4 linked regions of the Homo sapiens genome follow. The protein of the gene in region 1 interacts with the protein of each later gene in a pairwise test. Each region holds a gene or a part of one and is shown in the gene's direction. Other genes may lie near its edges. The genes, in order: SYNC, PECAM1, KIF1B and ACTA1.

Region 1 (8,053 bases):
GAAGAGACCATTCACAGAGGTGTGGGCAGGAATGGCGGAGCACCTGGGACTCGCAATGGTGGAATGGAATCATTACCCCTGGGCCTGAAGGAGCAGGGGAGGGAGCCTTGTTAAGGAACCTGGCCAGAGCTGTACCCATGGGTACAAACCACCCAACAGGAGCCATGGCTTTTGGGGGAGGAATATAGTTAATGCCAAAGTCACAGGCAGGGAGGGGGCATAATAAATATCTTTATCTAGGCTGGGTGTGATGGCTCACACCTATAATCCCAGCACTTTGAGAGGCTGAAGCGGGTGGATCACCTGAGGTCAGGAGTTTGAGACCAGCCTGGCCAACATGGCAAAATCCTGTCTCTTTGTATTTTGTAAAAATACAAAAATTAGCTGGGTGTGGTAGCACATGCTTGTAGTCCCAGCTACTTGGGAGGCTGAGGCACGAGAATCACTTGAACCCAGGAGGTGGAGGTTGCAGTGAGCTGAGATCATGGCACTGCACTCCAGCCTGGGTGACAAAGCGAGACTCTGTCCCCCCAAAAATAAAAAATAAAATAAAAATAAATATCTTGATCTCACTCTCCTCCCTCTCTGATCTCCTGCCAGGGTCCCCAGTTTGGCCAAACCCCACCTGAAACCAGAAGGCAAGGGGGCCCAGGAGACGCTGGCCGCAGGAGTCAGCTCCTGGACACAAAGCTCTGAGAAGGAAGGTTAGGCTAAGAGTAGCCAGCCCAGGGGCCTCTCTCCTCCTCCTGGGTTTGGCTTTGTGGAGGGGCTGAGAGTTAAGAGTGGCTGCGCTTGTCCTTCAAAGCAGAGTCTGTGCCTGATTCCTGATTCCAGAACAGCTTTTCTCATCCTTCCAGGCCCAGGTACTTTGTTCACGAGGCCATCCCCAGTCCCGGAGTTAATTTCTCCCATCCATCCCTGGCTTCCCTGGTTCTCAATGTCTATCACATCACTCAGCCCAGTGATTTGGCATTATTTTCTGCATAGGTTTTTCTCCCCAGGAGACGGTTCTAGCTTCCTCTACACTGAAAGCTTCTTGCAGGCTTGGGCCAAATAAGGCTGTTTGCTCTGACACAGGGCCCAGCACAGCCCAAGTGCCAATGTTTGCCAAGTGAGCTGAATCTTATGGGCTCAAATACCTCACACTGCCTTGCTGTATGCAATCTGGGCACATGTGTGTCTGTCTCCCTGAGTAGACTGGGGCTCCTGAGAGGTGAGTGGCCCAGGCCTAGCACACAGCAGGCATCAAATATTGCCTAAATTAGCCTAAGTAAAACCATCCTCCTTCCCTTCATTCATTCAACAATTTTTTTGGAGCTTCCAGATAGCTGAACATATGGAGGTTCCTGGAGGATGGTGTGCCCAGGGAGGGGATGGAAGCTTCATGCCCCTTCCTCCATAACTCTGCCCTATTCATCTCTTCATCTGTATCCTTTTCAATATCCTTTATAATAAGCCACTAAAGCTAAATATGGCCATGTGACTGAGCTCTGGCAATAGGACACAATCAGAAGTGGTGTGAGGTGAGCGACCCCTCCTTTTTACTTTCATTGGATAGAATGAGGCATTAGAAGGGAGCTTGGACTGGTCTTGGATGGGTGTGGATTAGGGCCACAGTCTGGAGATGGTGGAAGACCAAGCTGTGATTCTGCATCTTTGGCAGATTGTATTTTCCCAAGACAGAGGCAATACTATATCCCATTCCATAAGCTCTTCTTATACTGTGACTTTGACACACCCTTCCCATTAAAAGGTGGCATCTATGTCCCCTCCCCATGAGCTGGAGGCCCGGGTTTTTGTGACTGCCTTTAGCAACAGAATAGGTCAGCAGTGACAGTGTGTAGCTTCCAAGGCTAGCTCAAAAAAAATGCCTTTCACTTCTGCCTTGTTCTTTTGGGACGTTTACTGTTGGGACTTAGCCACCATGCCATGAGGAAGCACAAGCAACCCGTGGAAAAGCCCATGTGGAGGAGAACCAAGACCCCCAGCCAAATACCCTGCTGAGCTCCCAGCTGACAGACCGCATCAACTTGCCAGCCACATGAGTGAGCTGTCCTGGACGCGAGTTCTGCAACCTCTGGGCAAGCCACCTCAGCTGATGCCACGTGAAGCAGAAATGAGCTGCCTCCACCAAGCCGTGCCCAAATCACAGATCTGTGGGTAAAATAAATGATTGTTATTATTATAAAAAACAAAAACAAACAATTTTTTTAAGGTCCTACTATGTGGTAGTCCCTGTGCTGGGCTCTGGAGACACAGCAGTAAACAAGACACATAAAGTCTCTGCCCTCATGGGGCTTCCATTCTAGTGGGGAAGCAGAGAAGAAAATAATTGAAAATGAATAGTATTGGCCGGGAGCGGTGGCTCATGCCTGCAATCCCAGCACTTTGGGAGGCCGAGATGGGCGAATCACGAGGTCAGGAAATCGAGACCATCCTGGCTAACACGGTGAAACCCCGTCTCTACTAAAAATACAAAAAAATTAGCTGGGCATGATTGCAGGCACCTGTAGTCCCAGCTACTCCGGAGGCTGAGGCAGGAGAATGGCCTGAACCCAGGAGGCGGAGCTTGCAGTGAGCTGAGATTGCACCACTGCACTCCAGCTTGGGCAACAGAGTGAGACTCCGTCTCAAAAAAAAAAGAAAGAAAATGAATAGTATTGTTGCAGATTGATAAGTGCTGCACAGAAAATAAACAGGGTGACAGGGATAAACAGTAAATGGGGTGAGGCATGGTGGCTCCTGCTTGTAATCCCAGCACTTTGGGAGGCTGAGTCTGGAGGATCCCTTGAGGCCAGGAGTTTGAGATCAGCCTTAACAACATAGTGAGACCCCATCTCTATTAAATAAAATTTTACAAAACCCAACAAAACAAAAAAGCCCATAACAAAAAAATAAATGGGTGGACATTATGGGCAGGGGGTGGGGAGGCATCAGAGAAGGCCTCTGTGAGATGTGATCTGAGACCTGAAGGAGAGTAAAAGGTGGGCTGTGAAGAGCTGGAAAGGGTTTTCTAGGCAGAGGGAGCAGCAGAAAAGGCCTGGCTGGGTGTGGTGGCTCACTCCTGTAATCCCAGCACTTTGGGAGGCTGAGGTAGGAGGACTGCTTGAGCCTAGGAGTTTGAGACCAGCCTAGGCAACACAGTGAGACCTCGTCTTTACAAAAAATACAAAAATTATCCAGGTGTGGTGGTGTGCATCTGTAGTTCCAGCTACTCGGGAGGCTGAGATGGGAGGATCACCTGAGCCCAGGAGGTTGAGGCTGCCGTGAACCATGATTGCACCACCGTACTCCTGCCTGGATGACAGAGTGAGACCCTGACTGCAAGAAACAACAGCAACAAAAAAAACAACAACAAAGGCTTGGAGGTGGGGAAGTTTCTGGGACCCTGGGGAATTCAGGGTTTCAGCCTAAAGAAGCGCTGAGCAGGAGGGTAGGAGCGGGTCAGAAATTCAGTCCTAGGGACAGCCTAAGGCCAGGTCCTGGGCTGGGGGTTGGAGGGGCAGAGCCAGCTCTTCTGAATGCCACCCTTGCCGCCTGTTGCTTGGTACCACAGCAAACAGAGCCTCTGGCAGGCCTGCCCTTGCTGCCTTAGCTCTCCTCTGGCGGGCAGCAGATGTCAAATGCCCAGCAGCTGAGGCTTCGCCAGCCTCCTCCCCTGGAATAGTTCGGGGGTAAGTCAGAAAATGACCAGCAGCCTCAAAACCTGGCTTTTTCTCGTGCGTACCTTACAAGGGTATATTTGGCTGCCCTGGGTGTTAAATCTTCCACCCCCTTGCATTAGACAGAGAAATATAAATATACAGCCACAGGCAGCACACTCAGACGCGAGGATGAATGAACATTTATCAACCCCCAGTCACGCACAAGCACACAGTCAGAGTCACAAGCGGGACCATATGCATGCCCCCCACACAGAGTCAAAACCGCCAGCCCCACAAAGACACTCCACCATGGCACAATCACCACACACATTCACCCTGAGATCACACAATCACACATCCACATGCTCACACACAGACATGTACCCCACAATCACCGCAGAGTCACACAGGGGCACACAAGCCCACACACATTCAACACCACGGCATGCTTCCCCCACCGGCCTCCCAGGCACCCCAGCCCCTGGGGCTTGTTATGGTGCCAGCATTCTTCTGCGATTGAGTCAAAGACCTCCCCAGACAGGGTAGCTAAGTGGAAAAAGGAATCCGAAGGAAGAACGCCTGAAGCCCAGGTCTGGGAAGGGGCCCAGCAGCTTCTCTCTTGGGGAGAAAGACGTCAGTGCTGGTTTGACCCTCACACTAGTGGGCTGAGGACGTGGGGGGAGGTATGTCTTGAAGTTGACAGAAGTGGGCTGAGTGGGGTGACAGGTGGAGCAGGAGAGAGACCCCAGGAAGCCTCAAAGGGTGGGGCAGAAAGTGGGGTTAAATATGGACTCAATGTGATAGGCGTAAACTCCTCCGCAGTTCTCTCTAACCCCAGCCACCCAGCCCGCCCCCAGGCTCCAGGCTGTCCCCAAACGCGCGGGGTGTGGCCGTGAACCCTCCTCCCCGGCCGCGCCCTGCCCCGCCCTTCACGACAGCTGCCGGGGACAGCCCGGAGTGCCCAGAGGGTGGCTGCGGCCCTTCCCCTCTTGGGTGGGGACCAGAGGGCGCTGAGCGGCAGCGGACACCCCCAAACACTCGCGGGAGAGGGGTGCTGGCTCCCTTTGAGCAGCCCGCCCAACCCTGCCTCCACCCTCCCAGGCTGGACAGGGAAGGTGCTCCCTGGGGCTTCAGACCCCCCTTCTGACTCCCCCTGCAACGGGACCTCACGAAAGGAAGGGTGGAGAGAAGGTTCGGGAAGACGAGGGGGCTGGGAGGTTTGGAAAGACAGCTCCAGGCCCCCGTTCCCACCCCCGCCCCAGGCTGGTCCGGGAGGGGCAGCCTCTCCCCGCCCCCAGGTCCGCGCGGCCGCTCCCTCCTCCCCCGGCAGGAGCCCCGGCCAAGTGGGCGCGCCCGGCCCGGGGCCGGCCGGGATCCGGTGTCGGTTGCAGCTGGCAGTGCGGCGGGCGCGGGCGCCGGAGCGAGGGGCCCGCGGGCCCGGCTATTAATAACGCGGCCGCCAGCCCGGGGTCGCGCAGCCATGGCCAGCCCGGAGCCCCGGCGCGGCGGGGACGGCGCCGCCCAGGCCGCGAGGTAGGACAGTGCCGGGCCCGCGTCGCCGCCCCGCTGGGGAAGGGGTGCTGCTGGACGGGTTCCCTTTCCCCCCGACCGCGGGCGTCTTTCGCCTGTCTAGGGGTAGTGGTCCAGCCGGGGTGGGGCACTGGAGCCGCCTCGTGAGGGGACATCGGGGAGTCGGGCCGTCCCGGGGTCCTGGCACCTCCGTTTGTCTGTGGCTTTTTATAATACCCCTCCCCCTCCCGGGACTACATGAAAATTAACCCTTCCAGGCGAGTGGGCATCCACCGCTCAAGTGCCATTTGGCCCATAGCAGCCAAAGACACTTCTCGCTAGCCTTCATTCCTCCCTGCAAATGTCAGTTGGAGACAGAGGCCTCCCCTGCTGAAGTGGCTGTGTGGAAGCCACTTGGTGCAAGGCTGGGCATCTGCCAGCTTGAAGTTAAGAGTCTGTCAGGGCTTGTTCTCTCCCGTCTGGCCTGGGATGGGTGGGGGAAGGGTCCAGGGGCCCTCCCCACTATCCCTCCTGGCAGGGCACGGCTGATTATTGGGGGAAGGGACCTGTGGCTGAGGGGTTTGGGGTGAGGTGTATTTCTGTCCCAGGTCATACTGTGGCTCTGGGACTTCCCAGTGTACCAAGAGGTGAGGGTGCAAATACATAGCTCCCGACACCCCTTCACTGTCACACAGGGGCACAAAGCTGAGCGGTCTTACACACACACACTCACCCATACTGCTGTCCACACCTACAGCTACAGTCAGACACACGGACTCTTGCCTGCACAATGTCACATGGACTCCCAGCCACATCCCTGAACAGGGTTGGAGAGCTCTGCGGTTCTCTGGGGACAGGGACAGAGTGGCAGAGGCAGGCTGCCCAGGGCCCAAGGAAGCCCGAGGTCAGGGGCCCCAACTAAGCTGGCTTCCTCTCCTCTGAGCCTCCTGTCATCTGCTTCTTTCCCTCCTCTCTCTGTTTAAAAGAGGCGGCTGTGTGAGGGCAGCACCCAGCAGAGGCCTGGCACCATGGGTGGGGTGGTGGAGGCAGCACGATGTGTGCTAACAGCACAGCTTGGAGGTCAGGAGGCCTGGGTTTTACTTCCAGCTTTGCCATTCGACCTTGGGCAGATTTCCTCCTTGGAGTTCATCTGGTTTCTGCCTGTCTGCCCTTACAGAGCCCCACCCTAGGATATAGAGCAGAATGAGAACTCTGCTTGTCCTTAGGAAACTCACTATCAGGGAGACAGACACATGTACTTCTGTAACTGGAGCAATAAGTGTGAAGATGTGCTGCATACAGAGTGCCCTGAGAACACACATGGGGCTGTCTGGGAGATACTTTACGGAAGAGATGAAGTTTGAGCAGGGCTTGAAGGATGAGTAGAAATTTGTTAGATAGATAGAAGTATATTGTGGGCCCGGCGCGGTGGCTCACGCCTGTAATCCCAGCACTTTGGGACGCCGAGGTGTGCGGATCACCTGAGGTCAGGAGTTCAAGACCAGCCCGGCCAACATGGTGAAACCCGGCTCTACTAAAAATACAAAAATTAGCCAGGCGTGGTGGCGTGTGCCTGTAATCCCAGTTACTTGGGAGGCTGAGACAGGAGACTTGCTTGAACCCAGGAGGCAGAGGCTGCAGTGAGCGGAGATTACACCATTGCACTCCAGCCTGGGCAACAAGAGTGAAACTCCATCTCAAAAAAAAAAAAAGTATATTGTGACTGCTGCATGCCAGGCTTTTTATATGTGCTGTAGTTACCTCTTTTGGACCTCACGCCTATCCTAGGAGGGTGGTAAATACTGCAGGCCTTCTCCAGCCTCCACCACTTACAACAGTTGTGGAACCTTGTGTGAGTTCTTACTCTGTGCATTGGCTTCCTCATCTATAAAATGGAGATAATAGATGAAGATTCTTTCTTTCTTTCTTTTTTTGAGACAGAGTCTTGCTCTTGTTGCTCAGGCTGGAGGGCAATGGCGCAATCTCAGTTCACTGCAACCTCTGTCTCCCAGGTTCAAGCAATCCTCCTGCTTCAGCCTCCTGAGTAGCTAGGATTACAGGCACACACCACCATACCCAGCTAATCGTTTGTATTTTTAGTAGAGACGGAGTTTCACCATGTTGGCCAGGCTGGTCTCAAACTCCTGACCTCAGGTGATCCACCCGCCTCGGCCTCCCAAAGTGCTGGGATTACAGGCGTGAGCCACTGCACCCAGCCAATAGATGATGAGGATTCTATAAATGAGTATTCATGTAAAATGCCTAGAATAATCTTGAACACGGTGAAGTCATTCCAAGGTGGGCGGCTCGGCACGAGAATGATGAAAGGGCCGTCTGCTGGGAAAGCAGGGACTGTTGAATATCAGAGTGAGTTTGGCTGGCTGAGCAGGTGCATCCTTCCTGGCCCTGGCTCTAGGAGCTCTGCCTTCCCAGGTAGTACAGGGTTCTCTAGTTAGGTGGTTTTTGAGAAGCTGCAATTCTCAGCTGGACACCGTGGGCTTAGAGTAGGAGGTGTAAAAAGTTAATGCAAGCTCTAGGATGTCAAGCATTGGGTGGGTTGCAGGAATAATGTGAGAGGAAGCTAAAAAAGGTATGTTTGGGGCCGGGTGTGGTGGCTTATGCCTGTAATCCCAGCACTTTGGGAGGCCGAGGCAGGCGGATCATGAGGTCAGGAGTTCGAGACCAGCCTGACCAAGATGGTGAAACCCTGTCTCTTCTAAAAATACAAAAAATTAGCCAGGCATGGTGGTGGGCGCCTGTAGTCTCAGCTACTCGGGAGGCTGAGGTAGAGAATTGCTTGAAACCAGGAGCCGGAGGTTGCAGTGAGCCGAGATTGCACCACTGCACTCCAGCCTGGGCAACAGAGCGAGACTCTGGCTCAAAAAAAGAAAAAAAAAAAA
Region 2 (7,151 bases), on another chromosome or scaffold:
AGGTATATCTCCTAATGCTATCCCTCCCCCCTCCCCCCACCCCACTACAGTCCCCAGAGTGTGATGTTCCCCTTCCTGTGTCCATGTGTTCTCATTGTTCAATTCCCACCTATGAGTGAGAAGATGCGGTGTTTGGTTTTTTGTCCTTGCTATAGTTTACTGAGAATGATGATTTCCAATTTCATCCATGTCCCTACAAAGGACATGAACTCATCGTTTTTTATGGCTGCATAGTATTCCATGGTGTATATGTGCCACATTTTCTTAATCTGGTCTATCATTGTTGGACATTTGGATTGGTTCCAAGTCTTTGCTATTGTGAATAGTGCCACAATAAACATACGTGTGCATGTGTCTTTATAGCAGCATGATTTATAGTCCTTTGGGTATATACCCAGTAATGGGATGGCTGGGTCAAATGGTATTTCTAGTTCTAGATCCCTGAGGAATCGCCACACTGACTTCCACAATGGTTGAACTAGTTTACAGTCCCACCAACAGTGTAAAAGTGTTCCTGTTTCTCCACATCCTCTCCAGCACCTGTTGTTTCCTGACTTTTTAATGATCGCCATTCTAACTGGTGTGAGATGGTATCTCATAGCGGTTTTGATTTGCATTTCTCTGATGGCCAGTGATGGTGAGCATTTTTTCATGTGTTTTTTGGCTGTATAAATGTCTTCTTTTGAGAAGTGTCTGTTCATGTCCTTCGCCCACTTTTTGATGGGGTTGTTTGTTTTTTTCTTGTAAATTTGTTTGAGTTCATTGTAGATTCTGGATATTAGCCCTTTGTCAGATGAGTAGGTTGCAAAAATTTTCTCCCATTTTGTAGGTTGCCTGTTCACTCTGATGGTAGTTTCTTTTGCTGTGCAGAAACTCTTTAGTTTAATTAGAGCCCATTTGTCAATTTTGGCTTTTGTTGCCATTGCTTTTGGTGTTTTAGACATGAAGTCCTTGCCCATGCCTATGTCCTGAATGGTAATGCCTAGGTTTTCTTCTAGGGTTTTTATGGTTTTAGGTCTAATGTTTAAGTCTTTAATCCATCTTGAATTAATTTTTGTATAAGGTGTAAGGAAGGGATCCAGTTTCAGCTTTCTACATGTGGCTAGCCAGTTTTCCCAGCACCATTTATTAAATAGGGAATCCTTTCCCCATTGCTTGTTTTTCTCAGGTTTGTCAAAGATCAGATAGTTGTTGATATGCGGCGTTATTCCTGAGGGCTCTGTTCCGTTCCATTGATCTATATCTCTGTTTTGGTACCAGTACCATGCTGTTTTGGTTACTGTAGCCTTGTAGTATAGTTTGAAGTCAGGTTGCGTGATGTCTCCAGCTTTGTTCTTTTGGCTTAGGATTGACTTGGTGATGCGGGCTCTTTTTTGGTTCCATATGAACTTTAAAGTAGTTTTTTCCAATTCTGTGAAGAAAGTCATTGGTAGCTTGATGGGGATGGCATTGAATCTATAAATTACCTTGGGCAGTATGGCCATTTTCACGATATTGATTCTTCCTACCCATGACCATGGAATGTTCTTCCATTTGTTTGTATCCTCTTTTATTTCATTGAGCAGTGGTTTGTAGTTTTCCTTGAAGAGGTCCTTCATGTCCCTTGTAAGTTGGATTCCTAGGTGTTTTATTCTCTTTGAAGCAATTGTGAATGGGAGTTCACTCATGATTTGGCTCTCTGTTTGTCTGTTATTGGTGTATAAGAATGCTTGTGATTTTTGTACATTGATTTTGTATCCTGAGACTTTGCTGAAGTTGCTTATCAGCTTAAGGAGATTTTGGGCTGAGACAATGGGGTTTTCTAGATATCCAATCATGTCATCTGCAAACAGGGACAATTTGACTTCCTCTTTTCCTAATTGAATACCCTTTATTTCCTTCTCCTGCCTAATTGCCCTGGCCAGAACTTCCAACACTATGTTGAATAGGAGTGGTGAGAGAAGGCATCCCTGTCTTGTGCCAGTTTTCAAAGGGAATGCTTCCAGTTTTTGCCCATTCAGTATGATATTGGCTGTGGGTTTGTCATAGATAGCTCTTATTATTTTGAGATACGTCCCATCAATACCTAATTTATTGAGAGTTTTTATCATGAAGGGTTGTTGAATTTTGTCAAAGGCCTTTTCTGCGTCTATTGAGATAATCATGTGGTTTTTGTCTTTGGTTCTGTTTATATGCTGGATTACATTTATTGATTTGTGTATATTGAACCAGCCTTGCATCCCAGGGATGAAGCCCACTTGATCATGGTGGATAAGCTTTTTGATGTGCTGCTGGATTTGGTTTGCCAGTATTTTATTGAGGATTTTTGCATCAATGTTCATCAAGGATATTGGTCTAAAATTCTCTTTTTTGGTTGTATCTCTGCCCGGCTTTGGTATCAGGATGATGCTGGCCTCATCATCCTGAGGGAGGATTCCCTCTTTTTCTATTGACTGGAATAGTTTCAGAAGGAATGGTACCAGTTCCTCCTTGTACCTCTGGTAGAATTCGGCTGTGAATCCATCTGGTCCTGGACTCTTTTTGGTTGGTAAGCTATTGATTATTGCCACAATTTCAGATCCCGTTATTGGTCTATTCAGAGATTCAACTTCTTCCTGGTTTAGTCTTGGGAGAGTGTGTGTGTTGAGGAATTTATCCATTTCTCCTAGATTTTCTAGTTTATTTGCTTAGAGGTGTTTGTAGTATTCTCTGATGGTAGTTTGTATTTCTGTGGGATCGGTGATGATATCCCCTTTATCATTTTTTATTGCGTGTATTTGATTCTTCTCTCTTTTTTTCTTTATTAGGCTTGCTAGCGGTCTATCAATTTTGTTGATCCTTTCAAAAAACCAGCTCCTGGATTCATTAATTTTTTGAAGGGTTTTTTGTGTCTCTATTTCCTTCAGTTCTGCTCTGATTTTAGTTATTTCTTGCCTTCTGCTAGCTTAAGGAGTTTCATTCTTGTTGCCCAGGCTGGAGTGCAGTGGAGCAATCTCGGCTCACTGCAATCTCTGTCTCCTGGGTTCAAGGGATTCTCTTGCCTCAGCCTCCCAAGTATCTGGGATTACAGGCGCCCACCACCATGCTGGCTAATTTTATATTTTTAGTAGAGATGGGGTTTCACCATGTTGCCCAGGCTGGTCTCAACTCCTGACCTCAGGTGATCCACCCACCTCTGCCTCCCAAAGTGCTGGGATTACAGGCATGAGCCACCACACCTGGCCACAAGTTGCAAAACTTTTCTAATCCTTGTCATTGAAATAAATTGGATTAACAAGAAAGGAAAACCTGCCATTGGAATCCTAGGCAAAGAATGAACCCTAGCTCCTTACTGGGGTGATCGTTAGGTACATGAGAAGCAAAGGAAAACTTTTTGCTGGAAGTTGGAAGTTGGTTCTGCCAAGAGCACCTGAGCCAAGGGCCTCTCCAGGAAGGGTCTTTAGGGTGGTGGCCAGACACATCTCGCTCCATTCCCACTCACTGTTTTTCAGAACTATTTTCCAAGCCCGAACTGGAATCTTCCTTCACACATCTGGACCAAGGTGAAAGACTGAACCTGTCCTGCTCCATCCCAGGAGCACCTCCAGCCAACTTCACCATCCAGAAGGAAGATACGATTGTGTCACAGACTCAAGATTTCACCAAGATAGCCTCAAAGTCGGACAGTGGGACGTATATCTGCACTGCAGGTATTGACAAAGTGGTCAAGAAAAGCAACACAGTCCAGATAGTCGTATGTGGTGAGTATATTGTTGCTGACTCAGAGGACATCCAGGGTTGAATGGGAGAAAGGAAATTTATCTGCAGCTGCCGCCCTCTCCGGTCTGAGCAGACTCAGGCAGGGTAAGAACTAGAGGGAGAGAAGTGCGAAATCAAAGGCCAAAGAAACAAGGAGGTATTCCTGCTCAGAACACTGATTCACTGATGATGATGTGGCCTCTGACTTGCTAAGATTCTGGCAAGATTCTGCCTCCTGGAGCAAGTACCCACCCAAAAGTTCAGGAAGGAAACACTACTTAGTCAATGTTAAACTTTTCTTTTTTTTTTTTTTGAGACGTGTCGCCCAGGCTAGAGTGCAGTGGCACGATAGCTCACTGCAACCTCTGCCTCCTAGGTTCAAGTGATCTCCTGCCTCAGCCTCCCAAGTAGCTGGGATTACAGGTGCCCACCACCATGTCTGCCTAATTTTTGTATTTTTATTTTTATTACTTTTATTTATTTATTTATTTATTTTTTTGAGATGCAGTCTCGCTCTGTCACCCAGGCTGGAGTGCAGTGGCACAATCTGGGCTCACTGCAAGCTCCGCCTCCTGGGTTCACGCCATTCTCCTGCCTCAGCCTCCCAAGTAGCTGGGACTACAGGCACCCGCAACCACGCCCGGATAATATTTTTTTGTATTTTTAGTAGAGATGGGGTTTCACCGTGTTAGCCAGGATGGTCTCCATCTCCTGACCTCGTGATCTGCCTGCCTCAGCCTCCCAAAGTCCTGGGATTACAGGCCTGAGCCACCACACCCGGCCAAGAATATCAAAATTCCATTTTTTAAATCTGTATCCTGGCTAACCCAAAAGGGTAAGACTTCCAGTGGACAGAATGTAGGTATTTGACCACCAGGAGCTGGGCTTCTCAGGCCTGAATGTGCATGCAAGACCTGGTTAAAATACAGGTTATGATTCAGTATTTTAGGCCCAGATGGGGCCAGGTTCTGCATCTCTAACTAGCATTTTGGTGATGTGGATGCTGTTGGTCTCTGGACCACACTTTGGGTGGCGAGATTCTGGTTGATTATAGAACTCCAGTCAAGTTGTCACTGTCACTATATTATTCAGTCACGATCCTTTCATTTAACCTGTGGCTGTGTTTTATCCAGCTAAGATTTTATTATAGCTTCAACTGAACCAGGATTTTAGCCTATTTTTAATGCTCTAACCACCTAACTCAAAAGGCAGGAATGCAAGAGACAAATGTGTGTTATAACGTTTTATTTTATTTTTTGTTCTTGGGAGGAGGAAATCTCATTGTATAAGGTTTAAATAAACTAATGCCTAAATAATGACCTAATATAATTCTTATCTGTTAAGAGGCTGAAGCACTAAGAAGACTTTTTTTATCTTTTTTTTTTTTTTTTTTTTTTGAGATGGAGTTTTGCTCTTGTTACCCAGGCTGGAGTGCAATGACATGATCTCGGCTCACTGCAACCTCTGCCTCCCGGGTTCAAGCGATTCTCCTGCCTCAGCCTCCCGAGTAGCTAGGATTACAGGCATGTGCCACCTTGCCCAGCTAATTTTGTATTTTCAGTAGAGACGGGGTTTCTCTACATTGGTCAGGCTGGTCTTAAAGTCCTGACCTCAGGTGATCTGCCCACCTCGGCCTCCCAAAGTGCTGGGATTACAGGCATGAGCCACCGTGACTGGCTGAGAATAATTTAAAAACATATATATTGGCTGGACCTGGTGGCTCACACCTGTAATCCCAACAATTTGGCAGGCCAAGGTGGGTGGATCACCTGAGGTCAGGAGTTTGAGGCCAGCCTGGCCAACATGGTGAAACCCCCTCTCTACTAAAAATACAAAAGTTAGCCGGGTGTGGTGGCACATGCCTGTAATCCCAGCTACTCGGGAGGCTGAGGCAGGAGAATCCCTTGGACCCAGGAGGTGGAGGTTGTGGTCAGCTGAGATTGCGCCATTGCACTCCAGCCTGGGTGACAGAGCAAGACTCGGTCTCAGAACACACACACACACACACACACACACACACATATATGCTCAGCCAGGTGTGGTGGCTCATACTTATAATCCCAGCACTTTGGGCAGCTGATGTGGGAGGATCACTTGAGTCCAGGAGTTCAAGACCAGCCTGAGCACATAGTGAGACCCTGTCTCTACAAAAAATAAAGAATTAGCCAGGTGTGGTGTGCACCTATAGTCCCAGCTACTCGGGAGGCTGAGGTAGGAGGATTGCTTGATTCTGGGAGGTTGTAGTGAGCTGTCATCGCACCAGTGCACTCCAGCCTGGGTAATAGAGTGAGACCCTGTCTCAAATACACACACACACACACACACACACACACACATTTTGTTGGCTACTTGTTGTACTTTTTCTATGTTTTCTGTGTCTTTGCTCAACACAAGAAAAGTATATTATGTGTGCATGTGCGTGTGAGATATGGTAAAATATGAACATGTATTTCTGGGGATGTAATGTTTTCCTTGAATTTCTGTCATTCTCTGTTTTGCTTATTGTACTTCTCTTTCCCTTTCCCTTCTCACCACACACACACACACACACACACACACACACACACAGCCTGTCAGTCTCATAGGTGTCCTATAAAGGTAAATAAGGCAGGCAGGCATTTGAAATTACAGCAGGGATAGAAAGCAAAGCTCAGGCTTTGGAGGAGGAACCTCTTGTGCTGGATGCTTTGCTTTTACCTTCAGTGCCTTTTGGATTGTTTCTCCCTCTGTTCTAGAAATGCTCTCCCAGCCCAGGATTTCTTATGATGCCCAGTTTGAGGTCATAAAAGGACAGACCATCGAAGTCCGTTGCGAATCGATCAGTGGAACTTTGCCTATTTCTTACCAACTTTTAAAAACAAGTAAAGTTTTGGAGAATAGTACCAAGAACTCAAATGATCCTGCGGTATTCAAAGACAACCCCACTGAAGACGTCGAATACCAGTGTGTTGCAGATAATTGCCATTCCCATGCCAAAATGTTAAGTGAGGTTCTGAGGGTGAAGGTGATAGGTAAGTTGCTGTGCTGTGAGAAGAAATCATGTGGGCTTGGGGCATTCTTTCACGCCCAGGGACTGTGGGAACAATAAGAGAAGTAGGGGGCCAGGTGCGGTGGCTCATGCCTGTAATCCCAGCACTTTAGGAGGCCAAGGCCGGTGAATCATTGAGGCCAGGAGTTCAAGACCAGCCTGGCCAACATGGTGAAACCCCATCTCTACTAAAAATACAAAAATTAGCTGGGCATGGTGGCGTGCGCCTATAATCCCAGCCACTCGGGAGGCTGAGGCAGGAGAATTGCTTGAACCCAGGAAGCAGAGGTTGCACTGAGCCAAGTTGCGCCATTGCACTCCAGCCTGAGCAACAAGAGCGAAACTCCATCTAAAAAAAAAAAAAGCGAGAGAAGTAGTGGGTGCTTATGCAAAGTCCATATACTAG
Region 3 (7,281 bases), about 22 Mb from region 1:
ACTCCAGCCTGGGTGAGAAGGGGAGACTCTGTCTCTAAATCAATTAATCGGTCAATCAATCAATCAATAATAGACATTTCCAGAGAAGAAAATGGAAGGCGGAAAATCATCAACGGCAGAAATAGCACCTCCGAACTCCAGCCTGGGCGACAGAACGAGACTCCATCTCAAAAAACAAACAAAAAATAATAATAACAATAAGGAGTTCAAGACAAATCAATAAATTCTCTGGTTTTTCCTCCCAACTCAACATTTCCATCTTCCTGTTATTTTGTTTTTCAAGAAATAAAATATTACACATAAAGTTGCAGATCCTCATGTCATCCTCCCTTTTTTTGTTTGTTTGTTTTGTTTTTCTCTCTTTCTTTCCTGGGTTAATCTCATCCTGAATTTGATGATTGTCATTGCCATCCATGTTTTCACACTTGACTATACATAAATTTAGTCCTAAACAGTATAGTGCTCATATTCATACTTCAGACTTTATGTATAAATGCCACTGTCCCGCACCTATTATCCTGCACCTTTTTTTTTTTTTTTTTGAGACAGAGTCTCGCTCTGTCACCCAGGCTGGACTGCAGTGGTGAGATCTCGGCTCACTGCAAGCTCCACCTCCTGGGTTCACGCCATTCTCCTGCCTCAGCCTCCCGAGTAGCTGGGATTACAGGCATGTACCACCACATCTGGCTAATTTTTTGTATTTTTAGTAGAGACTGTGTTTCACCATGTTGGCTAGGCTGGTCTCGAACTCCTTACCTCAAGTGATTCACCCACCTGGGCCTCCCAAAGTGCTGGGATTACAGGTGCATTTATTCTTAAATATTGAATAGCTTTTATTGCTTTTTTTCTTTCTTTCTTTTTTTTTTTGAGACAGGATCTCACTCTGTCATTGAGGCTCGAGTGCTGTGGTGCAATCATAGCTCACTGTAGCCTTGACCTTCCAGGCTCAATTGATCTTCCCACTCAGCCTCCCAAGCAGCTGGGACTACAGGTACATACCACCATGTCTGGCTACTTTTTTTTTTTTTTTTGTATTTTTTGTAGAGATAGGGTCTCGTTATGTTGCCTAGGCTTGTCTCAAACTCCTAGGCTCAAGCGATCAGCCTACTCTGCCTCCCAAAGTACTGGGATTACAGGCGTGGGCCACAGCACCTGGCCGGGAAGACTTGATTTTTTAAAAAGATCCCATTAAAAATAGCAATAAAGGCCAGGCTCAGTGGCTCACACCTGTAGTCCCAGCACTTTGGGAGGCTGAGGTTGATGGATCACTGGAGTCCAGGAGCTGGATACCAGCCGTCTCTACAAAAAATAGAAAAATTAGCTGGGCGTGGTGGTGTGTGCCTATAGTGCCACCTACTCAGGAGGCTGAGGTGGGAGGATGGATTAAACCAGGGGGCAAGGGTTGAGGCTGTAGTAAGCTGTGATCACACCACTGCACTCCAGCCTGGGTGACAGAGTGAGACCCTGTCTAAAATAATAGTAATAATAAAGTCTTCCTATCAAAAAGGAACACTTCGGATTTTTGTGTATTGATTTTGTATCCAGAAACCTGATTGTGATTGTGATTGTGATGGGAGAGTGGCAGTGCACCACGTGACTAGGACTTCTGATGTTCTCGTATCCTTGCATTCCAGAGACAGCCCTACCAGATCATGGCTACATTCAATTTTCTAGTAATTTATTTATCATTTTAAAGAGATGCTTTTATACAGAATTTGTAATCTGAGAAACTGGCTGGGCAGTGTGACTTCATCTGTCAGAGAGGCAAAAGGCTTATGCAGAGTGGGCTGTTTGGCCTTGGATCCTGGAGCAGCCTTCTTTGCCTTTATTGACCCTTCTGTGCCTTCTGTGTGCCCTTTGGCTAGCTTCTTCTCCTGCCAATCACAATCACACCCTCTTCACTACGTTTTTGTTTTAAATTTTATTTTATTTTTTGTTGAGACAGAGTCTCACTCTATCTCCCAGGCTGGAGTTCAGTGGTAGGATCTCAGCTCACTGCAACTGCCGCCTCGTCCACCTCCCGGGTTCAAGTGATTCTCCTGCCTCAGGTTCCCAAGTAGCTGGTATTACAGGCGTGCCCACCACGCCTGGCTAATTTTTGTATTTTTTAGTAGAGATGGGGTTTTGCCATGTTGGTCAGGCTGGTCTCGAACTCCTGACCTCAAGTGATCCACCCGCCTCAGCCTCCCAAAGTGTTGGGATTACTGTCGTGAGCCACCGCGCCTGGTTCTTCACTACGTTTTAGATTCTTTTTAGATTGTGCTCCATTGAGAGCTCAAGCAATACAGCCACCCAGGTTTTCGTAACTCTCCATGGCGCTCACCACAGTATTTACGCAAGGAGGTCCACGCTATGATGAAGTGGTGTCTACTGTTGAATTGATGAGTTCCTCTTTATTAACCTACTATAGTTTCATTTTACTCTTAGCCGTCAGGAAGCTAAGAGCTGAGTTCTGTGCTCAGTGGCAACATATTTCCTTGACTATGGATTTTTAAAATATTGTTTTTCTGGCCGGGCGCGGTGGCTCATTCCTGTAATCCCAGCACTTTGAGAGGCTGAGACAGGTGGATCACCTGAGGTCAGGAGTTCAAGACCAACCTGACCAACATAGTGAAACACCGTCTCTACTAAAAATACAAAAATTAGCCGGGCGTGGTGGCAGGCACCTGTAATCCCAGCTACTCGGGAGGCTGAGGCAGGAGAATCGCTTGAACCTGGGAGGCGGAGGTTGCAGAGATTTGACATCGTGCCACTGAGCTCAGCCTGGGCGAGAGTAAAACTCTGTCTCAAAACAAAACAAAAAAATTTTTCTTTCTAGGCATGCCTCTCATTCAAACAGCTTTTAAAAAGTCTCTTGCTTGTTTCATTATTATGAATTTTACGCCTATTTTAAAGCTATACGGTTTCACTGCTGTATGCTTTAGTGTAAGCTATGTCAAATCCTTTTGCAGGTAGGTGGAGCTTAAATTCTATAAAATGAGACGTGATCAATAAAAGCGGATGAAGAGTCTGAGGACTTGAGTGGTGGTGGAGATTTTCCAGAATTATTAGTGTAGAAAATTAATTTCGATGTTTTAGTGCATATGCTTGTACATAATACCTTTTACTCACAATAATACTGTATTTAATTCAGGGGAAGACATGTGATTTTACTTTCAATGTCTGCTAGTAAATAAAAATAATTCACAACCTTATAAAGTAATAGTGCTCGGCCTGGGCCTGATAATTGAATATATTATCACTGAAGATTATATTTTGTTAAGTACTGAATTGAACAGTTTCTGAACAGTGAGATTTTTCTTTCCAGCTGAATCTAAATCTGATTTTAAAGAAATCACTGCTCGTGCTTTTGTGTCCTCCGGGTTTCTAACTTCCACTCTCCCTCCTTCAAGGGCATCTCCCAGAAGGGGGCTGGGCTCGTTAACTCAGGGACGGTGCAAAGCGTTTGTTCCTCTCCTCACAGCCCTTCCGCGGTCTCCCAAGGAGACAAGTGGAATGCCCACCAAGTCATGCTTTTCCATTACTCATTCCGCCTTCTCTCCCGAGGTGGCGCGTGGGAGGTGTTTTGCTCGGGTTCTGTAAGAATAGGCCAGGCAGCTTCCCGCGGGATGCGCTCATCCCCTCTCGGGGTTCCGCTCCCACCGCGCCGCGTTCGGCCGGTTCCGCCTGCGAGATGTTTTCCGACGGACAATGATTCCACTCTCGGCGCCTCCCATGTTGATCCCAGCTCCTCTGCGGGCGTCAGGACCCCTGGGCCCCGCCCCGCTCCACTCAGTCAATCTTTTGTCCCCGTATAAGGCGGATTATCGGGGTGGCTGGGGGCGGCTGATTCCGACGAATGCCCTTGGGGGTCACCCGGGAGGGAACTCCGGGCTCCGGCTTTGGCCAGCCCGCACCCCTGGTTGAGCCGGCCCGAGGGCCACCAGGGGGCGCTCGATGTTCCTGCAGCCCCCCGCAGCAGCCCCACTCCCCGGCTCACCCTACGATTGGCTGGCCGCCCCGAGCTCTGTGCTGTGATTGGTCACAGCCCGTGTCCGTCGCGGGCGCCGGGGCGGATACGAGGTGACGCGCAGAGGCCCAGCTCGGGGCGGTGTCCCGCGCCGGCGACTGCGGGCGGAGTTTCGCGAGGGCCGAAGCGGGGCAGTGTGACGGCAGCGGTCCTGGGAGGCGCCCGCGCGCGTCGGAGCAGCTCCCCGTCCTCCGCAGCCGTCACCGCCGGCCGTCGCCGCGCCCTGGCCTCCCGCACTCGCGCACTCCTGTCCGCCGCCCACCGCCCACCTCCCACCTCGATGCGGTGCCGGGCTGCTGCGTGATGGGGCTGCGGAGCGGCGCCCTGCGGCTCGCGGCGGCCGCTGCTCGCGCTGAGGTGCGTCGGTGCCCGGCCCCCCGCGCCCCCGCGCGCCGCGGCTCCTGTTGACCCGGTCCGCCCGTCGGTCTGCAGCGCGGCTGAGGTAAGGCGGCGGGGCTGGCCGCGGTTGGCGCCGCGGTCGCGGGGTTGGGGAGGGGGCCGCTTCCGCGGGGAGGAGCGGCCGGGCCGGGGTCCGGGCGGGGTCTGAGGGGAGGTAGCGCGGGACGGGCGCCGGGTGCGGGAGCCTCGCCCTCGGGGGAGGGGACCCCTCCCTAGGCCAGCAGCGAGTCCCGGGCCGGCGTCCAGCGGTCGGCTGGGGCCCCCGCAGTGCCCTGCACCGGCCCTCCGTTTCCCCCGCGCTGCCAGGCCCCGGCTGTGCCCAGCGCTCTCCAGACCCGCCGCTGCCTGGCCGTTCCCTGGGCTCCGCGCACGTTGCAGCCCGGGGGGCGGCTGTGCTTCGTTTGAAGCCATCGTTTCTCATTTTCCCTCTCCCCTTTCCTCCTTTGTGGTGGGCATCGGGCTTCGGCTGGGAATGTGGTTATGCCCTTTGCCAGATGGCGATAGGAAAGGTCATCGCTTGGCGCTGGGGGAGCCGAGGGCTCGAGGCCTGGAAAGAGGGGTGCGATAGGAAGGGAGGGGGCTTGTTGGATGCTGGCCAGGTGTGAGGAAGGCTGGTGTGGTCTCGGCATTCAGCCGACTGGGATTACTCGGGCAGCCATATTGGGAGGATGATCTGACAAATCCTTTAGGAGCCAAGTCCAGTTGTTGGAAGGCACCGAGTGACAGCCCTGGCAGCTTTCAGGGTGACTGGCCAGACCAGAAGCCAAGTTGTGGGGGTTGGGAGGCTGCTTGAGCAAGCTAGTCATTGTTCATGCAACACAAAACATTCCCGCCCCTAACGCCAGAATGGAGCTTCCAGATCCCTTTTTTTTTTTTTCCTTGATTGCTAAATGAGCTTCCAAGGTAAACTGCCTTCAAGATTCCATTCTTGTTGGGGTGAAATTCCGTGTTTCTCTATTCATCTTCTGCGTCCAGTGCGGGGGCTGTGAAAGGCCTGCTGATGCTTTACATGTGCATAGGCCGATCTGAGAATTGCTAAGGCCACTGTATCAGTATGGAGGCCTCGAGTAGCCGTAGAGCATTGGATGGATAGATTTTCAGAGTCGCTCGACTTGCAGAGAAGAAGTAAACCAGAGTATTCTGATAGTGGGCGAGGCTAGTGGCGGCATTTCTGAGGACGCAGGCTGTCATCTTTGTGGAATCTCGAGGTAGCTGAAATTAGATTGTCAACAGATCCCTTGCTCATATCTCTTACTGCTCTGAGCAGCTGTTCTGCCACCATTGAACATTCCGCTTTGTGTCATGATGTGCCTGTCTGAGCCTGATGAAAGTGTGCTGATGAGATTTGAATAACTCTTAAGAGGTGATATCATGGTGGATATTTTATTTAAAGGCTGGCATTTTGTCTCCTTAGTTTAGTCATAACAAAATCTAGTTCTTGTGTTCCTCTAAGAAGTGAGGTGGTGCTTTCTGATTAAGTTGATATGGTTGCTGGATTATAGAGCAAGTGTTGTTAATGTATTGTTTGAAGGTGGAATATGAGAATTACACATAGGTTGGTATTGTAAAGCAGGTCTGGAGATGATCAATAACTGGGTTCAGCATGAGTCTGTAGATCTGTTCTTTTCTATATCCTAGATGTGGACAGGACCTGGAGAGATGGCATGCCTGCTTTCTTCTTTGTGGCCTTTGCTTTCATTCAAGTTCAATTTGTTCATAAATACATTCTCATAACTTCTCAGGTTGAACTATGTAAAAAATTTTGGGATGGGTGTGGTGGCTCATGCCTTGTAATCCCAACACTTTGGGAGGCTGAGACAGGAGGATCCCTTGAGCTCAGGAGTTCGAGACCACCCTGGGCAACAGAGTGGGACTCTGTCTCTACAAAAATAAATGAATAAATAAATACCTGGGCATGGTGGCTCATGCCTGTATTCCCAGCTATTTGGGAGACTGAGGTGGGAGGATTGCTTGAGGCTAGCCTGGGCAACAGCAAGACCCTGGCTAAAAAAAAAAATGTGTATATATATATGTGTGTGTGTGCATGCGTGTGTGTATATATATATATATATATATATATATATATATATATATATACACACACACATTTAAAAAATTTGGATAGCTTTTGCTAAGCAAGGTCTTAACACTATTTTTTTGTTATTTTTGTCATCAAGCTTTAGTTTTAAAACTTGTTGAATCAAATGTAACTTCAACAGAAACTAGTGTTTTTTGCATTACACTAGTATGAGAGAAATACAGAATGTCTGTTTTGAAATTCCATGCCCTAAGTTAGAAGTATTTCTAAGTTTTTAATTTTTAGAGTTACTTTATTAGTATAAAGATCTGAATATTTTTGATTAAAAATAATTTCAGCATTTGGTAAAATCAGACCTGATTGTGAATCTGATACAGAGGCTAGGTTTTATGAGTATGTGTAGCTCTGCTCTGATGAGTGTTTTTCCAAAATTTATCCAATTAAGTATAGCTTTTAAGGCTTAGAACAGACTGTTTTTCCTTTTCAAGACCAGATATGAATGCACTTTTCCTTTTTTCTCTCTTTCTTCTTTCCCATTTTGATTTCGTGCAGGGAATAAGTGTCCAAGAAAGTCTGCCAACGGAGTCTTTCTTAAGGCCAAAGCTTTTTAGCCCATTTTCTCACTGTGGTCTTGTCCTGGGTACAAAGTAAAGGACAATGGGCCCCCTGCCTTCCTGTTTGTAATCCCCTTCCCAGGCTGCTAATCATAGTAGATCTTTTCCAGGAGGAAGCATATCCTTTTGGTCTTGTAAACTAACATGATATAATTTCATAATGCTCTGAAGTTATTTTATGTCTATTTCATGTATTTCTCTTTGAAAGATGGCCTCGTTTG
Region 4 (7,281 bases), about 200 Mb from region 1:
CTTGCTCAGTTGCAGTGACATTGATGTGTGTATACTGAGCAGGCCAATGACTTTAATGTTCTTTTCTCACCTTTTCTGCCACTGCACTGTGTGCACCTGCCCCAAGCCCTTAGTCATTGGAAGCAAGACATGGCACCATGTGCTGAATGTTTCATATGTCTTAGGTACTCACCTAGTTTGTTGTTTTGTTTTTGGTTTTGGTTTTGGTTTTTTGAGACGGAGTCTTGCTCTGTTCCTAGGCTGGAGTGCAGTAGCGCAATCTCAGCTCACTGCAGCCTGTCTCTTGGGTTCAAGAGATTCTCCTGCCTCAGCCTCCCTAGTAGCTGGGATTACAGGCACCCGCCACCATGCCCAGCTAATTTTTTTGTATTTTTAGTAGAGACCAGGTTTCACCATGTTGGCCAGGCTGGTGTTGAACTCCTGACCTCAAGTGATCTGTCCACCTGGGCCTCCCAAAGTGCTGGGATTACAGACGTGAGCCACCGCACTCAGCTCTCACCTGGTTTTAATCCTCAGATCAGTCTTAAGGAGTATTGTGAGTTGAGAATGCTTTCTGGAAAGTCACTTGTCCAAGATCACATAGCCAGTCAGAGGGGAAGGTAAATGCAGCTCTGCTTGATTCCAGAATGCAAGCTCCTAACCAGTTCATGATATTCTGGGTATAAAGAATGTTGAAGAGAGGGCACTGCTCCAATGAATCATCAGGTTCTTAGAGGTGGCCATGAGTGCAAAAACCACCAGCTTCAGGAGGAGGAAAAAGTAGAAAATCCAAGCCCAAGCCCTTTCTTTGGGCTGCCAGGAGTTGACTCAACTTTTTTTTTTTTTTTTTTTTTGAGATGGAGTCTCTCTCTGTTGCCCAGGCCTGGCGTGCAGTGGTGGGATCTCGGCTCACTGCAACCTCTGCCTCCCAGGTTCAAGTGATTCTCCTGTCTCAGCCTCCCGAGTAGCTGGGATTATAGGTGTGCACCACCACGCCTGGCTAATTTTTGTGTTTTTAGTAGAGACGGGGTTTCACCATGTTGGCCAGGCTGGTCTTGAACTCCTGACCTCAAGTGATCCACCAGCCTCGGCTTCCCAAAGTGCTGGGATTACAGGCATGGGCCACCGCGCCTGGCCGACCCGACGTTTTTAAGTAGCTTGTGAGAATGAGTTGGTCTTTGTCTACCCTGTTCCTGGAATATCTCTAACTTGGAGTGCCCAGCCAGCCCCTCAAAGCTGAGTTTCTGGGGAAGCTACGGCTTTTCATGTCAGGATGTCTTTGGCTCATTACTGGGAAAGATCCCTCAAGGGCCTGTTCTGTTTCGAACTGTACCCAGTGTTGGTGAGGATTAGAGAGAAGCAGCAGTCCTTGCCCTCCCTGGCCACTGGCAGTAGAAGGAAGGACAGCCCAAGCCCGTCTCCTCCACTGGCTGCTGTGGAACCTGGGGTGTGTTTTAGCTCATTAAGCCTCAGTTTTCTTTAAAAAAGAAAAAAAACTGGAATGAGTAATACCTATCTTATTTACCTTAGGATAGTTAAACGGTTAATTGAAACACGAAAGCATATTATAAAGTGTTTTACCAATTCCTGTTTAAATTGATAGGAAACACAGTAGGAAGACTGGAACTGAGCAAGATTGGGGTACGGGTGTGTGGAGTGTTGAGGGGCACAATTGGAGAGAAGGGAAGTGTGAACACACCGGGGTAGTGGTAGCAGAAGGGCCCGGTCAGGGTATGAAGAGCTGAGGCTGCACCTGAAAACTTAGAAGCAGGAACTCCCTGTCAAGCATACCCTACATGGCTGACCTTTACTTAGTGACAGTTCTCAAAAGGCGGAGCAGGGCGCCGCTGCGCTCCCCCAAAACATACATGTATGGAGACGTGGCTCTGCCACCCACCATTCAGTCTATTCTCTAAGCCAATGAGAATGCAACAAGACCAGAATGGGACTGAGGGTGGCCTGTGGTGACCTGTCAGGGACTATTTAAACCAGCCGCAAATCATGTGGGCAGGGAACAGATGCCTGGCTGGCCACCTCAGGGGCCATCTCCCACAGTTTGCTGTACTAGCAGGTCTCTGTTCGCTTGTGAGTGTTTTTAATCATGGTCAGCTTTTAGTGTGGGTTTGAATGTAACAGACTGAGCTTAGAAAAGCTTTCTGTAAGGAAAGGTAAGAGTTGAACTGAGCAAGAGTTTTGAAAAATAGTGACAATCCCATTCTCCTTTGGAATGCGCACAAATATTGAGGTATCCAGTGAACGGCAGCAAATTTCCTACCTTCAAGGCCCAAATGTAAGCTAGTCCCCTTACGTTACATGCAGCTCATTTGCTAAGTGGTTTTTTTCTAGTATCTCCACTACTCGCTGACACAGGAGGACACAGGATGTTAAAAAGGAAATACAGTTCTGTCAATTATTCACTTACTCTCCAAAATACTTGGAAGAACTAAATATGGAACCATAGGAGACTTTATCCTCACCGCATAGTCCCTATACTAGTCAAACTCCTTATTTTTTAATTGATCATTTTTAGGAAGGTAGCATTTTATTCACTAGAACATTTTTGTTAATACTTGTTTATTTTTGGGATGAACTGCCATGATGTGGGCTACAGAGGAGGGTCGCATATGCTTCCATCCCCCTTTTAGAGAATCCACACCTGTCCCAGTTGCTGGGTTCCACTACCAAAAGTGAATTGCAACTATTTTAGGAGCACTTAAGCACATCCGAAAAATGAGTGATTCTGTTCTGGCCCACACCACATCACTGATGTACCCCCTTAAAGCATGTCCCTGAGTTCATCACAGAAGACTGCTCCTCCTGTGCCCTCCACAAGGTTAGAACTGTCCTTGTCTTAGGGAAAAAGGAGAGAGAGAGAGAGAGAGAGAGAGAGAGAGAGAGAGAGAGAGAGAGAGAGGGACAGGCACCAACTGGGTAACCTCTGCTGACCCCCACTCTACTTTACCATAAGTAGCTCCAAATCCTTCTAGAAAATCTGAAAGGCATAGCCCCATATATCAGTGATATAAATAGAACCTGCAGCAGGCTCTGGTAAATGATGACTACAAGGTGGACTGGGAGGCAGCCCGGCCTTGGCAGGCATCATCCTCTAAATATAAAGATGAGTTTGTTCAGCCTTTGCAGAAGGAAAAACTGCCACCCATCCTAGAGTGCCGCGTCCTTGTCCCCCCACCCCCTCCAATTTATTGGGAGGAAGGACCAGCTAAGCCTCATCTAGGAAGAGCCCCTCACCCATCTCCACCTCCACTCCAGGTCTAGCCAGTCCTGGGTTGTGACCCTTGTCTTTCAGCCCCAGGAGAGGGACACACATAGTGCCACCAAAGAGGCTGGGGGAGGGCCTCAGCCCACCAAAACCTGGGGCCAGTGCGTCCTACAGGAGGGGAACCCTCACCCCTTCAATCCCTTTAGGAGACCCAAGGGCGCTGCGCGTCCCTGAGGCGGACAGCTCCGTGTGCTCAGGCTTTGCGCCTGACAGGCCTATCCCCGGGAGCCCCCGCGCCTCCTCCCCGGCGCTCCGCCCTCGCCTCCCCCCGCCAGTTGTCTATCCTGCGACAGCTGCGCGCCCTCCGGCCGCCGGTGGCCCTCTGTGCGGTGGGGGAAGGGGTCGACGTGGCTCAGCTTTTTGGATTCAGGGAGCTCGGGGGTGGGAAGAGAGAAATGGAGTTCCAGGGGCGTAAAGGAGAGGGAGTTCGCCTTCCTTCCCTTCCTGAGACTCAGGAGTGACTGCTTCTCCAATCCTCCCAAGCCCACCACTCCACACGACTCCCTCTTCCCGGTAGTCGCAAGTGGGAGTTTGGGGATCTGAGCAAAGAACCCGAAGAGGAGTTGAAATATTGGAAGTCAGCAGTCAGGCACCTTCCCGAGCGCCCAGGGCGCTCAGAGTGGACATGGTTGGGGAGGCCTTTGGGACAGGTGCGGTTCCCGGAGCGCAGGCGCACACATGCACCCACCGGCGAACGCGGTGACCCTCGCCCCACCCCATCCCCTCCGGCGGGCAACTGGGTCGGGTCAGGAGGGGCAAACCCGCTAGGGAGACACTCCATATACGGCCCGGCCCGCGTTACCTGGGACCGGGCCAACCCGCTCCTTCTTTGGTCAACGCAGGGGACCCGGGCGGGGGCCCAGGCCGCGAACCGGCCGAGGGAGGGGGCTCTAGTGCCCAACACCCAAATATGGCTCGAGAAGGGCAGCGACATTCCTGCGGGGTGGCGCGGAGGGAATGCCCGCGGGCTATATAAAACCTGAGCAGAGGGACAAGCGGCCACCGCAGCGGACAGCGCCAAGTGAAGCCTCGCTTCCCCTCCGCGGCGACCAGGGCCCGAGCCGAGAGTAGCAGTTGTAGCTACCCGCCCAGGTAGGGCAGGAGTTGGGAGGGGACAGGGGGACAGGGCACTACCGAGGGGAACCTGAAGGACTCCGGGGCAGAACCCAGTCGGTTCACCTGGTCAGCCCCAGGCCTGCGCCCTGAGCGCTGTGCCTCGTCTCCGGAGCCACACGCGCTTTAAAAAGGAGGCAAGACAGTCAGCCTCTGGAAATTAGACTTCTCCAAATTTTTCTCTAGCCCCTTTGGGCTCCTTTACCTGGCATGTAGGATGTGCCTAGGGAGATAAACGGTTTTGCTTTAGTTGTCGCCAAGGCAGTTCCCTTCCAAACTAGCGCTAGAGCGAATGAGCGAGCAGCCAGGACCACCCATTCTGGGTTTCCAACAGGCGAAAAGGCCCTTTCTGAGTTTGAAATGTCACAGGGTTCCTAACAGGCCACTCTTCCCTGGATGGGGTGCCAACGCCTTTCCCATGGGCATCTCCTTCCACCCTCACGCTGGCCCAGCAAGCAGGCAGTGCTGAGGCCTTATCTCCCTAGGTGACAGATGTGGTCAGGGAGGCGCAGAGAGGATGGGCACTAGCGTCCAGCTCCTGGAACAGGTGTCAGGCAGGGAGGGCAGACAGGTCTTGGGGAACATGTTCCCCTGGCTATGTGGACAGAGGACTTCTCAGTGGGGTCTCGCGACCCTGTGCCCCTTTTCCTGGTTCAGGGCAGCCCTTAGCCGGGGCAAAGGTCGAGAAGAGAACCCCTGGTCGCCGCCCTGGCAGAATTTGAGTGGCTCCGGCAGGAGATGTCCCTAGGTTCCTGGGGAGGGAGGACGTCGGGGCCAGCCAGGCTTACCCCCCCCTGCCGCTGAGACTTCTGCGCTGATGCACCGCGCCTCTTCGCGGTCTCCCTGTCCTTGCAGAAACTAGACACAATGTGCGACGAAGACGAGACCACCGCCCTCGTGTGCGACAATGGCTCCGGCCTGGTGAAAGCCGGCTTCGCCGGGGATGACGCCCCTAGGGCCGTGTTCCCGTCCATCGTGGGCCGCCCCCGACACCAGGTCAGGCTGCCCCTCCGCAGAGGGAGCCGGCTCGGGGTCCCCGCGTAAGCCAGCCTGGTGCCACCCGGAGCGGCGTTAACGGGTGCGTGGTGTCTCGGCTCTGCAGGGCGTCATGGTCGGTATGGGTCAGAAAGATTCCTACGTGGGCGACGAGGCTCAGAGCAAGAGAGGTATCCTGACCCTGAAGTACCCTATCGAGCACGGCATCATCACCAACTGGGATGACATGGAGAAGATCTGGCACCACACCTTCTACAACGAGCTTCGCGTGGCTCCCGAGGAGCACCCCACCCTGCTCACCGAGGCCCCCCTCAATCCCAAGGCCAACCGCGAGAAGATGACCCAGATCATGTTTGAGACCTTCAACGTGCCCGCCATGTACGTGGCCATCCAGGCCGTGCTGTCCCTCTACGCCTCCGGCAGGACCACCGGTGAGTGCCCGCTGCCCCCAGTCCCCTCTCCCGCCCCCGCCCCCGCCCCCGCCCCCGCCGCTAGCGCTGAGAGCCTAGCCTCGGCCTCGCCCCCAGCCACTCACTCTCTCCCGCGCGCGCACAGGCATCGTGCTGGACTCCGGCGACGGCGTCACCCACAACGTGCCCATTTATGAGGGCTACGCGCTGCCGCACGCCATCATGCGCCTGGACCTGGCGGGCCGCGATCTCACCGACTACCTGATGAAGATCCTCACTGAGCGTGGCTACTCCTTCGTGACCACAGGTGCGCGGCGCCCCTGCACCCCGGGCGGGAGGGCCGGCGGCGGCCCCTGAGTGAGGGCTCCTCTCCTGCTTCTGCCCTCCGCAGCTGAGCGCGAGATCGTGCGCGACATCAAGGAGAAGCTGTGCTACGTGGCCCTGGACTTCGAGAACGAGATGGCGACGGCCGCCTCCTCCTCCTCCCTGGAAAAGAGCTACGAGCTGCCAGACGGGCAGGTCATCACCATCGGCAACGAGCGCTTCCGCTGCCCGGAGACGCTCTTCCAGCCCTCCTTCATCGGTGAGCCCCGCTCGCCCTCGCCCCGGCCCCCAGGCCCCGCCGGCCCCCGGCGCCCCGAGCTTCTGCTCACGCTCCCCGCCGCGGTCCCCAGGTATGGAGTCGGCGGGCATTCACGAGACCACCTACAACAGCATCATGAAGTGTGACATCGACATCAGGAAGGACCTGTATGCCAACAACGTCATGTCGGGGGGCACCACGATGTACCCTGGGATCGCTGACCGCATGCAGAAAGAGATCACCGCGCTGGCACCCAGCACCATGAAGATCAAGGTGGGTGGTGGCCTGCGCGGGCTGTCGGCGGGGTGGGCTCCAGGGTGAGGTCTCCCCACCTCACGCGCTGTCTTGCAGATCATCGCCCCGCCGGAGCGCAAATACTCGGTGTGGATCGGCGGCTCCATCCTGGCCTCGCTGTCCACCTTCCAGCAGATGTGGATCACCAAGCAGGAGTACGACGAGGCCGGCCCTTCCATCGTCCACCGCAAATGCTTCTAGACACACTCCACCTCCAGCACGCGACTTCTCAGGACGACGAATCTTCTCAATGGGGGGGCGGCTGAGCTCCAGCCACCCCGCAGTCACTTTCTTTGTAACAACTTCCGTTGCTGCCATCGTAAACTGACACAGTGTTTATAACGTGTACATACATTAACTTATTACCTCATTTTGTTATTTTTCGAAACAAAGCCCTGTGGAAGAAAATGGAAAACTTGAAGAAGCATTAAAGTCATTCTGTTAAGCTGCGTAAAGTGGTCGTGTTTATTTGCTTGGGGCGGGAGTGGAGCAGGAAGAGGGATTCCCATCCCCCACATCCTCTTAAGTCACTTTTCACGATACCCCAAATGAATGGGCTCCTTGGAAGACAAAACTTACATCTTCCCATGCTCCCCTGCCGGTTTCTGCAGTGGATCAGATCCATT

What was found.
Region 2: the proteins of SYNC (region 1) and PECAM1 interact in binary tests that used the Homo sapiens proteins (3 or more experiments, as listed by UniProt).
Region 3: the proteins of SYNC (region 1) and KIF1B interact in binary tests that used the Homo sapiens proteins (3 or more experiments, as listed by UniProt).
Region 4: the proteins of SYNC (region 1) and ACTA1 interact in binary tests that used the Homo sapiens proteins (3 or more experiments, as listed by UniProt).

Annotation. Positions count from the first base shown.
Region 1 is NC_000001.11:32,699,732-32,707,784, reverse strand, and holds the start of SYNC (syncoilin), read left to right. Parts: upstream 1-5,014; 5' UTR 5,015-5,124; coding exon 5,125-5,177; intron 5,178-8,053.
Region 2 is NC_000017.11:64,359,717-64,366,867, reverse strand, and holds part of PECAM1 (platelet endothelial cell adhesion molecule precursor), read left to right. Parts: intron 1-3,470; coding exon 3,471-3,719; intron 3,720-6,452; coding exon 6,453-6,728; intron 6,729-7,151. UniProt on the Homo sapiens protein: Cell adhesion molecule which is required for leukocyte transendothelial migration (TEM) under most inflammatory conditions.
Region 3 is NC_000001.11:10,206,428-10,213,708, forward strand, and holds the start of KIF1B (kinesin-like protein KIF1B), read left to right. Parts: upstream 1-4,142; 5' UTR 4,143-4,451; intron 4,452-5,188; exon of another isoform or gene 5,189-5,311; intron 5,312-7,281. UniProt on the Homo sapiens protein: Has a plus-end-directed microtubule motor activity and functions as a motor for transport of vesicles and organelles along microtubules.
Region 4 is NC_000001.11:229,431,074-229,438,354, reverse strand, and holds ACTA1 (actin, alpha skeletal muscle), read left to right. Parts: upstream 1-4,260; 5' UTR 4,261-4,351; intron 4,352-5,227; 5' UTR 5,228-5,239; coding exon 5,240-5,368; intron 5,369-5,474; coding exon 5,475-5,799; intron 5,800-5,923; coding exon 5,924-6,085; intron 6,086-6,169; coding exon 6,170-6,361; intron 6,362-6,452; coding exon 6,453-6,634; intron 6,635-6,712; coding exon 6,713-6,856; 3' UTR 6,857-7,110; downstream 7,111-7,281. UniProt on the Homo sapiens protein: Actins are highly conserved proteins that are involved in various types of cell motility and are ubiquitously expressed in all eukaryotic cells.